Homo sapiens: one gene and its partners. The protein of the gene in region 3 interacts with the protein of the main gene of each other region in a pairwise test. Each region holds a gene or a part of one and is shown on either strand. Other genes may lie near its edges.

What was found.
Region 1: the proteins of FBH1 (region 3) and APBB1 interact in binary tests that used the Homo sapiens proteins (3 or more experiments, as listed by UniProt).
Region 2: the proteins of FBH1 (region 3) and ZDHHC17 interact in a two-hybrid assay, tested with the Homo sapiens proteins (one large-scale study listed by BioGRID and IntAct).

Annotation. Positions count from the first base shown.
Region 1 is NC_000011.10:6,412,519-6,416,942, forward strand, and holds part of APBB1 (amyloid beta precursor protein binding family B member 1), read right to left. Parts: intron 1-4,424. UniProt on the Homo sapiens protein: Transcription coregulator that can have both coactivator and corepressor functions. Adapter protein that forms a transcriptionally active complex with the gamma-secretase-derived amyloid precursor protein (APP) intracellular domain.
Region 2 is NC_000012.12:76,766,267-76,770,690, reverse strand, and holds part of ZDHHC17 (palmitoyltransferase ZDHHC17), read right to left. Parts: intron 1-4,424. UniProt on the Homo sapiens protein: Palmitoyltransferase that catalyzes the addition of palmitate onto various protein substrates and is involved in a variety of cellular processes.
Region 3 is NC_000010.11:5,895,694-5,901,237, reverse strand, and holds part of FBH1 (F-box DNA helicase 1), read right to left. Parts: exon of another isoform or gene 4,180-5,544; coding exon of another isoform or gene 3,768-4,179; intron 706-3,767; exon of another isoform or gene 686-705; intron 1-685. UniProt on the Homo sapiens protein: 3'-5' DNA helicase and substrate-recognition component of the SCF(FBH1) E3 ubiquitin ligase complex that plays a key role in response to stalled/damaged replication forks.

The DNA of each region.
Region 1 (4,424 bases), on a different chromosome or scaffold from region 3:
CCACAGGCTACCTCCGCCCCTCCTCAGCAATCCCTAAACTCTTCCCCAGCGCCTGTCACCATCTGACAAGCCAATTTATTATTTACTTTGTCTAATGATTGTCTCCTCATGACTATAATTTATAATTTCCATGTTGGTGAGGATTTTGCCTTTTTGGTTAAATACAGTATGCCTAGTGCCTAGCGTAGTCCTGGCACAGAGCAGGAACTCCATTAATATTTGCTGAATGAATGTATGAATCAGTCCCCATTTCCTCCAGGCTTCGCTTTGGCATCTCCTCTGCCAGTGTCAGAAAACACTTTGGTTACGTTACTATGCCTTATGGTGCCCCAAACAAACTCCACCTGCCTCTCAGGTAAGAGGACGTCCTGTTCCGCAAGGACAGCTCCCCCTCCAGACCCCTCCCTCTGCCTCCTCACAGCCCTTCGTGGGTCAGTTTCTCCGCAACCATTTGAGTCCCAACTATCCTTCCAGCCCGCCACCCAGGGACCCACCCTCGGCCCCATTCCATCCTCCCCACTCTCCCTGACCTTCCAGTTGCTCTGCTGCTCTCCTTCCCGGACCCCCAAGAGAAAGTGCTCTCTCCCTGGACCCTCACCAGCCCCCGATTTCAGTTATTTCTCCCTGACCAACCACTGCCCACTTCTCTCTCATCCTGAGCCCTCCATGCAAGCCCTCCTTCAGACAGCCCCTACCACATTACTCTCTCCTCCCTCGATGGCCTCACTGATTCTCTTGCCCTACCCGACCCTTCCCCCAACAGACAATTCTCCCTCACTGACCATCCCAACAAACACTGCACTGTGCTCTTTCTCATTCCCACTGTACAGACCTTTCTCCTTGATGTCTTATCTGAGAGTTCCCTATCTCCCTGTTCCTCTACTAAGGAGTTCTTTCTTTCCCTGACTCACCACTACCCCCCTTCCCTCTGTGTTCTCAGCGCTGAGCACAGGTCTTGCAGCTACCTGAGCAGGGCTTGCCCATCTCTCCAGGTGCGGTGCGCCCAGGCTGGAGTGCAATGGCACGATCTCAGCTCACTGCAACCTCCTGCAGCCTCCTGAGTAGCTGGGATTATAGGTGCCCACCACCACGCCCAGCTAATTTTTGTAATTCTTTTTTTTTTTTTCTTTTAAGTAGAGATAGGGTTTCACCATGTTGGCCAGGCTGGTCTCAAACTCCTGACCTCAGGTGATCCACCCGCCTCAGCCTCCCAAAGTGCTGGGATTACAGGCGTGAGCCACCGCGCCCGGCCCCATAGCTCACCTTTCTACGTCTCTAGTTCCTCAGACACTAGTGCTATGCTACCCACACATCTGTAAGATGAAAAAGGTTTCTGCGCACGTGTCTGCCTCACGTGGGGCTGTTGATCTGCTCAGTGTGACTCCTCCTGGCCAATGAGAAAACTCACAGCCACTGGAATAAATGAAGAAAAAAATAGCTCTACCTCCTCCCAGAACCACAGTAATCTTCCAAAAATGGAAACCAGATTGTGTCACTCCCTGGTTCAGAAAATGAGAGGGCTCACCACTGCCTTTCGGATAACGCCTGCACTCGTTCGCAGACACCCAAGAGCCCTCTTAAGCCGGCCTCTATAACCTGTCAGTCCCCTCCCCACCTCCCGCCTCCTTTATACCTTATACTCTAGCCACATGAAGCGTGGCGGATTCTGAAACATGTCGCACACTCTTAAAGCCCTGGGTCTTTGTTTATACTGCTCCCTCGGCCTGGAATTCTGTCTCCCCTTGTGAGAACCTCTGCTTGTATTTCAAAACTAACCTCAGCAGTTACAGCTCCTAAGCAGTCTTTCCTGTTCTCTCCCCACCATCAAGTGACTGTTCTCTCCTTCGTGTCTCACAACACCCAGAACCACATTCTATCAGAATATCTGAGACGGTGTCTTATTCAATTTCACATTCCCATTACCAAAGAGAGTGTGCCGTGTGCCGACACAGACTGGGCTGTTGCAGAAGGAAAGGACGGATGAACGGGACAGACACAGGGGGTGGGAGGATCCAGGAAGCTCAGAACTGGCTGGGAATAAATACCAAGAAAGGCTGTGTGGCCCAATGGGCTGGGGAGGAGCAAAGGGAGTGTTTGGGAGGGTGTCAGAGAATGCCAAAGGGTCCCTGAGTGGGAAGTAAGATGGGACAGGAATCCTGGAGAGGTGAGGGCTGAGATCTAGGAAAAGGGAGCGAGGGAGGTAGCTTAAACCAACATCTTGGCACAGACACTGTTCAAGAGTGGCATCTCCATGGGTGTCAGGAAGCAGAAGACTCCACGACTCTGCCATGCTCAGAGGACCTTAAGGATGGCAAACCCTTCTCTGAAGCAGTAGTGTACAGAGCCAGGTTTCTCAAAGGTCAGGCAGAGACCAACCTCCTAGGCACTAGGAGATATGATCTGAGAAGAGTGCATGCACTGTGAGGCTGAAACAGTGAAGAGCCAAGTTGACCTCAGGGCAGCCCCGCCAATCTGGTCACCAGGGCAGGAAGTATTAGAGGAAGAATGGTGAAACTGTTTAAGTGCTGAAGCCTGAGCATCTAGCCTGAGGTGGTGTGGTCACCAACACCCCACTGCTCGAGGTCAAAAAGATGATCTCAGTCCAATTTTTTAAAGAAGGAACACAACCTAATCTCTCCCCTCTCATTGGAGTTACCAAAGGATGCAAAGAGCCAACTGGGTTCTGGCTCAAGGCAGGGAGTTGGGCAGGGGCCTCGGGGCAGGAAGTGAAAGAAGTAGTCACTAAGCCTGAAGATCCTGGCATCAGACCACAGGGGTTGGGGTTGAGTCTTGCTCAAAGTCAGGAGTTGTCTAATCTGACAGCTTCCCATATGCCAGGCACTGTGCTAGACACAGGGGAGAGTGATGAAGACAAAAGAAATGGTTCTTCCTCTGGAGGAGTTCTCAGTTCAGCGGGAAACAGTCATTGAACAACTTGTTACAATGCAGTGTAACACCAACATCTAGAACAGTGCCTGGCACCCATAGCATTCCCTATTTGTTGACTGAATATCATGAAGGAGGAAGAGGAGGGCATTACAGGAACCTGGGGCTTACTACAGCCAAGACATCAGCAAAGGCCTGCCTGAGACTAGGACATAACTCTCCATTGGCCACCCGTCTCAGAGGCTGATCTCCCCTCCTGATTCACAGAGGAAAGGGAAGCCATCCAACTGGGTAACATCCTCAAACATAAAAACCTAACCAAACTTCAGCACCTATCCCTTTCTCTCCTTCCCAAAACCAACTGCTTCACCTATGATTTGGATTCTTCCTATGATGCCTTTCCAGGAATTTTATACCACTGTTTATCTATTTTCTCCTCTATATGATCAACCTCTCCTTCTCAATAGGATCCACGGTCTCCCAACTTGACCTGACGCTCCTCCAGATCCACTCACTGCTCTCTTTCCTCCCCCATACAGGCAAACTTCCTGAGAGAGTTGTCTCCACTCACTGTTGCCACTTCCTCACCTCCCACTCACTCCTCAACCCTTTCCAAACCTGCTTCCACTCCCAACACGACTCAGTAACAGCTCCTACCAAGGTCAACATGACCCCTGTGTCATTCAATCCAACAGACACAGTGCTCGTCTTGGTTGTCCTCCCAGCAGCATCTGACCCCGTGAATCTCTCATCCAGCCTCTATCCGGGGCCTCCACACTCTCATCTCCACACTCCTCATCTCATCTCATCTTTTACACTTCTTGTTACTGTTTGCTGGGTTCCTAGACTCCTCTGCTGGCTCATCTTCCTCTATTAGCCATTACCTGCTGGAGTTTCTTATGGCTTATTCTCATGCCCCTTCCTCTTTCTCATCCTATAATCAGTATAAGTATTCATTAATGCCCACAGCTTCAGTTATACACTGATGATTTCCCAATTCAAATCTCCATTTCAGACCCCTCACCTGAGCTCCAGACAAGTACATTCAACTTTCTACTCAACATCTCCACTTGGATGTCTCAAGCTAATAGACCCACTCATGTTTCCCACTCCCACACACTAACTGGTCCTCTTTCAGGATCCCGGCTCATGGAATGATAGAATCCATCCTATTCTGTGAATCTGAAGTAGGGGTACATCTTGACATGTCCTTCTCCTGCACTTGCTATGTTCAATCCATCTCTAGGTACTGATGATTTCCTCTCTGAGAAAAATTTCTGGACTTCATCTACTCTCCACATCCACTACCATCAAGGACAAAGACCTTAAGACAAAATTCCCTTTTTTTTTTTTTTGCGATGGAGTCCTGCTGTGTCACCCAGGCTACAGTGCAGTGGCAAGATCTCGGCTTACTGCAACCTCTGCCTCCCGGGTTCAAGCGATTCTTCTGCCTCAGCCTCCTGAGTAGCTGGGATTACAGGCACACACCACCATGCCCGGCTAATTTTTGTGTACTTTTAGTAGAGATGGGGTTTCGC
Region 2 (4,424 bases), on a different chromosome or scaffold from region 3:
GCCGCAATTACAGGCGTAAGCCACCAAGCCCGGCCAGCACACTGCATTTTAAGACACCTTAACTGTTCAATGCTGACTACCTTAACATACCCTTACAACCCTCTCTAGGAGGAAAGGAGGACCACGAATCATTTCTAATTTTAAAAAATACACACAGACACACTCTCCCTCATCTATCCTGAGGTATCTGAAGGTCTACAGTTAATCTTACATCATTTTACAATGTGTTATTTTGTAAATGTTATTACTTCGGAGCCTAGCAAAGGGTCAAGACCATACTTGGATTCTCAATAAACACTCCCTTGTAGCAAAGCACACGTCTTTAAAAACATCAAATAGGGCAAAAGGGCTTATAATAAGAAGTCCTCTGCCCATCTTCTCTTCAATCCCCAGAGACAACCAATACTAATTATTTTAGCCACTCTAATATATGCATACTACAATTGTTTATCAATTTGAGGTACTACTTTTTACCACAATATTAATAGCCAACACTTATTGTTGTTTACTAAGTGCCAGACACAGAACTTCACATGTATTATCTCACTTAATCCTCACAACAGCCTCATAAAGTAGGTGTTATTATACCCCCATTTTAGTTTGGAAAATTGGGATGCAGAGTTCAATAACGTGCCCAGGATTGCAAGCTAGTGAGCAGAATTGAGATTTGAATCCTAACACCATTGCTCACTTTTAACCTATATACTCTTATATCCACCAACTCCACAGTCCACTCTTAATAAATACTTTTGAGATCCTCCCAAATTAAATAAAAATAATGAACAAAATAAAACAAGCCGAATCAGGAAAATGACATTTCTCAAAACCAGAACAATTTTTTGGTCAGTAATTTTCAACTCTGGCTTTGAGCACAATCCATGAAGTCTCACCAATTAATCACATTTTAATTTTATATCTATTGACTCAGTGATTACTAAGCTTAATAGTAATGCTCAGTGGTTACTGGGCTTAACAGTGGTCACTATACTAAGCATAGTAGTTACTAAGCTTAATATATAGTATTTTAAAATATACATTATTTTAAAATCTAGATTATTATTATATGACCTATAACATTTTTGCTGAATTTTTTAAAAGGCATCAAATCCTAGTGACTGCATAAAGAAGTGCTTTGAAGGAAAAGAGTTGCAGGTAACCTATGGGAAGAAAAACAACTTTCAAAGTCATTTTGTATCTGCTTTCTGAAAGCAAATGAATTACCTTATATGTGTACAAATACATATATATACACACACACATATAATATATACATAATAGGGCAAAAAGTAATAGAAAATGGCAAAATTCTTTTCACTAAAGAACAGCTTCATGGCCGAGCATGGTGGCTCATGCCTGTAACCCCAGCAGTTTGGGAGGCCGAGGCGGGTGGATCACCTGAGGTCAGGCGTTCCAGACCAGCCTGGCCAACATGGTGAAACCCCATCTCTACTAGAAATACAAAAAATTAGCCACGTGTGGTGGCAGGCACCTGTAATCCCAGCTACTCGGGAGGCTGATGCAGGAGAATCGCTTGAACGCAGGAGGCTGAGGTTGCAGTAAGCCGAGATCACGTCATTGCACTTCAGCCTGGGCAACAAGAGCGCAACTCCATCTCAAACTAAAGCAAAAAACCAAAAGCTTCAAAAAGTAGATTTTATGAAATCTGTGAGGACAGTAGATAATAGCAATAGTTTGATTTAATATTCAAACAGAAATCATCAGAAATAATAAAATGAATGTGAAATAAAAAACGTTACCATAAAAAGAGAGACGAAAATGAGAAAAAAAGGCAATAGCAGAAGTTTTGAAATAGAGAAAAAAGGAAGAAAGAAAGAGATGAAAGCCCTAGATAATCTAGGCAATCCAGTTCAAAGCTCTGAGTCAGATGGTTCTGAAATAGCCCCTGTGATACTGTGGCAGAAGGGGATATTGTGATCTCATTCTATCAAAGAGCTGAGATGACTTACTGAGGATGTACTAGTAGGTAAAATGGAAGCTGGTCATGGCTAGTCTGCTGGACCAGTAGACCAACATATGGTCTCTGTCCCTCTACGGAAGCCTTTCTTCTAACCACTCTAAATGACAGGAATCTGACACCACTTACAAGCTACATTACTTAATTCAGTACTTATTTGAATCGTCCAGTGTTTCACGTGCCTACAACTTCCCAACTAGTTATTTACCTTCTGGAAAACATATGCTATCTTTTTTATGTTATTTTAACCCATATAACCTAACACAATGCTACGTACCTAGTAGACAGATGCTCAAGTTGATTATATTGAAAAATCACAATTTAAAACCAGAACACTTGAGTCTGAAGAAATCTTAGAGGTCATCTAGTCTAGCTACTTTATCTTAAAAGCAACAAAACTGAGACCAGTTAAATACCTACTAGCTCAAGGTCACTGAGCTAGAACTAGTACCCTAATCCCTTGATCATCAGTTCTTCTTTATCCAAAGAGCCTTTAATTTCTTTCATTTCAATAAAACAAATAATCACCTATTTCAAAAGAAAACAAAGTAACAGCAGCTTCCCTTTCAGTATTCACTATATGCCAGGGCCTTCAGAAGGTACAATTTGCTTGGCAGCCTATGTGCCTAGGTCTATGAAAACTGCTTTATAAACATTAGCCTAGTTAATATTCACAATAACTGTAAAAGGTGTCACTATTAACCCAACTTTACAAATGAGAAAAATGTACTTTGACCATGATAACAGTAAGCTGCAGAAGCTACATTTTCAGTTTGTCACCACAGCTTTGGATTTTTTTTTTTTTTAAGAGAGTTTTGCTCTTGTTGCCCAGGCTGGAGTGCAATCTCGGCTCACTGCAACCTCCACCTCCCGGGTTCAAGCAATTCTCCTGCCTCAGCCTCCTGAGGAGCTGGGATTATAGGCATGTGCCACCACGCATGGCTAATTTTGTATTTTTAATAGAGACAAGGTTTCTCCATGTTGGTCAGGTTGGTCTTGAACTCCGAACCTCAGGTGATCCGCCCGCCTCGGCCTCCCTAAACCCTGGGATTACAGGCGTGAGCCACCACGCCCAGCCAACTTTGGCTCTTAACCAGTATTCTACACTGCCTCTCACTGAACACCAAAAATATCCTGAAGTCTCACACAGACTCCAGCACAATTCCTTACCCAAACATGACAAACAAATGTTTAAATGACCAACTAAATGAGTGGATGATTTAATTCATTAAAAAGTAAGATTATCTTACCTAAAATACCTCTAAAAAGGCGTTTATCTAATTGTATAATCCTCTAAGAAAGGTTTTAACAGTGGGCAGTTTGCATACTAATAAGAGATTTAAGCAATGCTCATTTCTTTACCCACAAATAATTCATCTGCTTAACAAATACTAAAGTGAAAAACTGTTTTTGTGTGAGAGTATTAAATTGGAAGATAAAAAGTGAAATGAAATTTGTTCCTGCAAGATCCTATTCCACTAAATTAAAACCCACATAAGTTTTAAATCAGTCACCAAAACCAAAATAAATGTGTAACACTTCCCTTTCTTCTGGTAGAGAAAAAAGAAGTAACATTAACTGAGCACCTACAATGTGCCAGTTCTTGACCCTCAACATATAGCCTCACTTAATCCCTTACAGCCAAGTAAACTAGGCAGCATCTCCATTTTCTTTTCTTTTCTTTTTTTTTTTTTTTTGAGACATAATCTTGCTCTGTCACCCAGGATGGAGTACAGCTGCTCGATCATGGCTCACTGCAGCCTCAACCTTCCAGGCTCAAGCAATCCTCCCACCTCAGCATCCGATTAGCTGGGACTACAGGCGTGTACCACCATGCTCAGCTAATTTTTGTATTTTCTGTAGACACAGAGTTTTGCCATGTTGCCCAGGATGGTCTCGAACTCCTGGGCTCAAGTGATTCTCTCACCTCGGCTTCCCAAAGTGCTGGGACTACAGGTGTGAGCCTCCGAGCCCAGCCAGGATCTCCATTTTCTGATTACAACTGAAGCTTAAAGAAATTAAGCACTTGTCTCAGGTCACTTAGCTAGTTACCGAATTTCCAGAATTAGAATCCAAGTCTGTCTGACCCAAAGTCTATGTTCTCTCCAAAAAGAGGTTAAAAGTACTATTATTTCATTACTTACCAAGACAGAGAATGGGTTTCTTCCCAAAGGAGACTGAAAACACTGCTTATTTTAACAACAAAAACATATTATCTCAGTTAATCCTCGCTATAGCTTATTAACTATTATTTTTATCCATTATAAATGATGAAACTAGAACTCAGAGACGTATTCATAGCTTGCCCAAGAACACACTGCTAGGAGGCAGCAGAACTACCCCAGGTCTGCACCAGCTGCACACACTAACCACAGAAAATGCAGAAAGACCTCAGCCATGTAGTACAAGCTTAAGGTCCATCCAAAGTATTAAAATAATCAGACCTTGT
Region 3 (5,544 bases):
TCGCACCATTGCACTCCAGCCTGGGCAACAAGAGTGAAACTCCATCTCAAAAAGAAAATAAAGAATACTCCACCACTAAACTATGGTATCAAATGCCAGAATCTCACTCAACATTTCTTTTTTTTTCTTTTTTCTTTTTTTGAGACAGAGTCTCCCTCTGTTGCTTAGGCTGGAGCACAGTGACACAATCTTGGCTCACTGCAACATTCACCTCTTGGGTTCAAGTGATTTTCTTGCCTTGGCCTCCCAAGTAGCTGGGACTACAGGCCCCCTCCACCACACCCAGCTAACTTTTGTATCTTTAGTAGAGACGGGGTTTTACTATGTTGGCCAGGCTGGTCTCGAACTCCTGGCCTCAAGTGATCCGTCCACCTCGGCCTCCCAAAGTGCTGGGATTACAGATGTGAGCCACTGTGCCCAGCTTGACATTTCCTTTAAGCTTGAAAATACATAAAGCCAAGACCCCAGTGATTTAGCTGATATAGTTTACAATATTTTTTCATTATTCCTCCCTAGCTAATTCAGAAATCACCCTTCCAAATTTCAGTTAACTTTTTCAAGGTTTAATACCAGCTTTTTTAAAAAAAAACTTCATGAATATTTTAAGACTTTTCCAAAATCAATTCTACAAACAAAAGCAGTTCTGAGAGCCCCTCTGAAAGGACGCTGGAAATCGTCTAACTACCTGAACTCAGAAGCTGGGTGCAACCCCATGAGCGCCAGGCCTCAGCAATCACAGATGCGCTCACTCTCACGAAGCAGCACAGCGCAGCGTGGTGAGCCGGCGAGGGCCTGGCGGGAGGGCTGGGCTGGCACCCTCAGCTGGCCACTTGGTTGCTCTATGGCTTCAGGGCACCTCAGGTCTCTAAGTCTGATAGGTCTACGGCCATACCACCCTGAACGCGCCCAATCTCATCTAAGTCTGATAAGTGTCATCAGGAACAGATGAGAAAATATGCTCAAAACTGTCTGTCAAATTATCCAACTGCATGCATACAAACTTACCTGTTTCCTCTATTTAACAAGGCTTATGTGAGTAGCCTGCCTAAGACATTGAAATATCCTTCAAATTATAAAGATGCCACCTAATGGCAAAGCAGGAAGTGTATTAGCAGCCCAAATACAGCCAATTCTGTATTACTGGAAATACCTTCTAAACTAACCAGTAACATGTCTCGCTTATTATGAACAGAAAAGCAAACACCCCCTCCACTTTGATGGTTTTGTGCTGGTTTGTGCTGGTTCTGTAATGTTGCTGACCAGTTTATTTAGAGGAAAACAACAGCAAATCATCTTATTCACACAGAAACAAAATATGAATGTGAAGTTTCTCTACATTAAAAACTAAATTTGAAGTTTTCTACATTGGAAAGAAAACAAAGTCTTGTTGTTCTCTTTTTAAAAAATAAGATGAAATTTTATTTCCTGTGTTCAAAACCCTTCATATTACAAATATAACGCAAGGACTATTTTGCCTGAATGGGGACCTCTGGGCATATCTGCAAAAGAGACAGGTAGAGCGGCAACATGGCTTCCAGAACACCCGAAAATCCTGGGTGAGGTGCCCCACACAATGCTCAACAGCAGGAGCAGCTGCAGGACTCCGGGCAGCAAATCCACAGGCCCTATAGATCCAACAGAGTGGACTCATGCCTGCTTTTCTCTCTCCTCAAACAGTCCCAATTGCTTCAGAGCTGGTCAGTACAGTATCTACAATTAGAACTGGAGACACTATGTGTCCTGATGAAGGGTAAGGAAAAAAGGAAAAAAATAAAATAAATAACTGGAGACACTCACTAAAGAAAGTTACCAAGAGTGAATATCTCACTTAAATAGGAGGTGAACATCTACTGCCACAATGGCCTGGAGAAGAAAAGCTTTCATGGATAAAATCATGAAGGAAAAAAACAAAACAAAACAAAACAAACAAAACAAAAAATCACAAAGGAGCAAGATCAACATCAAACCACTCATATCTGAGACCCAGGACCTCAGGCCAGCTGCAGGCCTGCTTAGCTGAATGGTGTGTCAGGTACCGAAGGCTTCTGAAAGTCAACGAAAAGGCACATAACCAGTGAGAAAATCAGGCTCAGTTGAAGGGTCTGATGCCCACCCAAATCTATGATGGCCTTCTACATTTGGCTTTTGGAAACAGCTACAAACAGAGGCTGGCAGATTTGTATAGAAGAGGTACCTACACATGCAGGGTGAACCCTGGAACGTTTTTTGTGAAGTATGTAAGAATGGCTTTATCGAAGCCTTCTGCAGCCACCTCACTGTAACAACGGTGCATTGATAATGACCATCAATGAGATGGAGATGTCTCATCACATGCCTGAGAGTCGAAAAGACAGTAAGCATGCCCCAAGGTAAGCAGCTAGCCCACCTGGTTCACTGCTGTAACTCTGTATGTAGATAGCGTGGGGCCAGACATATAGTCTGTGCCATGTACTCAACGTTCATGTCCCTGAAATTCACACACTGAAATCCTCACCCGCAAGGTGACGGTATGAAGTGGTGGGGCTCTGGGCCAGGCACAGTGGCTCATGCCTGTAATCCCAGCACTTTGAGAGGCCAAGGTGGGTGGATCACTTGAGGTCTAGAGTTCAAGACCAGCCTGGCAACATAGTGAAACCCCATCTCTACTAAAAATATAAAAATTAGCCAGGTGTGGTGGCGGGCACCTGTAACCCCAGCTACTCAGGAGGCTGAGGCCCAAGAATCACTTGAACCCGGGAGGTGGAGGTTGCTGTGAGCCAAGATTGTGCCACTGCACTCCAGCCTGGACAATGGAGAGAGATTGTGTCTCAAAAGAAAAAAAAAAAATGCGGTTCTAGGAAGTGATAAGGTCACAAGGGTGGAGTCCCCACAAATGGGATTAGTGCCCTTATAAGAGAGGTCTCAGAGAGCTCCCTTACTCCTGCCACCATGTGAGGACACAAAGAGAAGGTGCCGTCTATGAACCAGGAAGCGGCCCTCACCAGACACCAAATCTGCTGGCACCTCGATCTTAGACTTCCAGCCTCCAGATCTGTGAGTGAGAGAGACTTCTGCTTATAAGCGGCCCAGTTATGGTATTTTGTTATACCAGCCCAAATGGACTGAGGCAGCACACGTTCTGTGAATACTGAGTGGGTCAAGAAGGATGAGGAGCAGGGAGAAGAATTCGGCTGGGAGGTCCAGGAGCCTACACTCTAATCCCTAGGAATATACTACAGAACTGCTCCCACAGGGAGACCTCCCTGGTAGCTCACAACAGACTGATGACAGAACATCAAAAATGTTCAGTCCCAAAGGGAACTGCTTTGGAAAAGGTAATATGAACAGGATAGATTTTTATTTATGTATTTATCTCAGAAAATACGTCTGAATCCAAAATGCTTGTTGCGAAGATTAAGTGTTTGCAGAAATCTAACAAAGACACAGGAGTAACAGAAAGTGCTAATGGGAGTGTTGGAACACTGTGTTCTGCTTCAAGGGAGTCCCGGTATATTCCAATATGTTCTGGCATGAAGCCACCCTGGGAGGAACTGAGGTTCGGTACCGGGGGAGGGGCGCTTAGACTGGTGATCTGGCCTCTGTGCACTAAGATAAGTAACCTATATAACTGGAATGGCGTTACCAGCCATAGTTTGGCTGGCGGGAGAGCTGGTACTTTTATTGGATTTTTATTAACACTTTTATTGGATTCCCCACCCCTTGGACTTATTGGATATATGTATCAAAAATAACTTTTCTAACGTCAGCTGGAGGTCAGGAAAACTAACCTGTATCTCTGGTCTCAGAGAGAGGTGCTGTGATGCTCTGAACTGGGAGCCAGGAGCCCTGTGTCCACCTCCTCCGCAGGAGCCCTGTGTCCACCTCCTCTGCAATTACACGCTTTACACTTAATGTTCCCTTAAAGCCCCTCCGAGGCTGTGGGGTGCAGGAGAAGACCCACACTTGGCAGGTATATTCATCGCCAAAGCCTTGCTTATGAAAACGAGGATTATAATAACCTGCCATGCTGAATTCAGAGAATGAGACAATATATATGTAAGTACTCAAGCCACCCACATTGAGGGTGACAACACCTATCTCTAAATCTATGTCAACACCTAGCAACAGAAACGTCAGAAGAAATATGTGACTACCACACCAATCTGAGGGTCTCCTAAGGCACATCAGTTTTAATAGCATTAATGTTCTTGCTAAATGGTTAAAAATAAAACCAAAACACTACACTAGAATTCTAATCACCCTTCTATTCTTATTAATATACCTTTTTAAAAAGCAGTTCAAAAATAACTTTATCAAAATAAGAATGCTCAAATGCTACTTCTTCCATAAAAATCCTCCTTCCCTGAGTCACGCAAAGCTCATGGTATGCCTCCCTCTCTACACAGCAAGTGCACTTTACACCTCCTGTAAAGGGCATTTACTGTTAGAAGCTGCTTGTGATTCTTTAGGGAATGAAATTATCTGTGGTGAATGACCACAGATAAAGGGAAGCTGTGTCTAAACTAGGGGTTCTTGTGGGTGCAGAGAGATTAGAATCACTTACGGGGCTTTGCAAACTCTACAAGGCCCCCAGAGTTGTTGAAATTGGTCTCCTACACACCAAATTCGGCATCTGTGCTCCCACCCTTGGACACTCTCTTCCACAATAACCAACAGAAATGTGTTAGAGCCCTCAGGTGTCAGGGTAGAAAAACCAGAATGTACACAAACCATTTTGTCAAATGAATATTCCCTAGGCTTAAGTAAGCTCATTCCCACACTGCCTTTTCTGTGACGGCTTTCTAACAGTGTGACTTCTCTGTCCTCCACCCCAGGGGTCCCCATTCCAGGACCCACCTCTCTTTGCTAACCCTCAGCTTTTAGCCCTACCCCAGCAATTCCTGGCCTTTGCTGACTTTGAAGTGGTCAGATCTGGAGTTTAGCCCTCCACCACCCCTCAAATCTCTTCACCTTGATGACAGTCTATCCCCTCCCAGCCCACTCTGACCCACTCCATGCCCTGGTGAGGTCCCCCGATGGAGATGAGACCCTTATCAGTCTCCCCTGAACGAGTCCTTACAAGAACTCTGCTACGGGGAACTAAAAGGAAGGGACCACGTCTATCCCCTCATTCCTCAAAGTGCACAAGGGGGAAACAAGAGACACTCCTGCAGTCGCAGAGTGAGAACTGCGTGTCTGCCACTCCTCCCCTATGCTTTCATTTGCCTGGCTTCTTTTTTTAATCTTCTTTATTGAAAACAACTTACAAAACAAGTCACAGAAAGTGAAACTGAGTGTTTCAGGTTTTGCTGCAAAGAATGTTGTTGCTCTTCTCCCTGAGCACACAGCTGGGCTATACTTCCCAGTCCTGCGTGCAGGTGGATGTCGCCTTACCGCTGGGTGCCAGCCAATGCAATGGGAACAGCAGCAGCACACGCCTCTTCCAGACCTGCCCTCCACTCTTCTCCTCTTCCCCTTAACTGGGAAGCTGATTCCCAGGACATCCTTAGAAGCCGGGTGTTCAAAATAGAAGAGCCTCCAGCAGCCTCAATCCTCGGACTACTG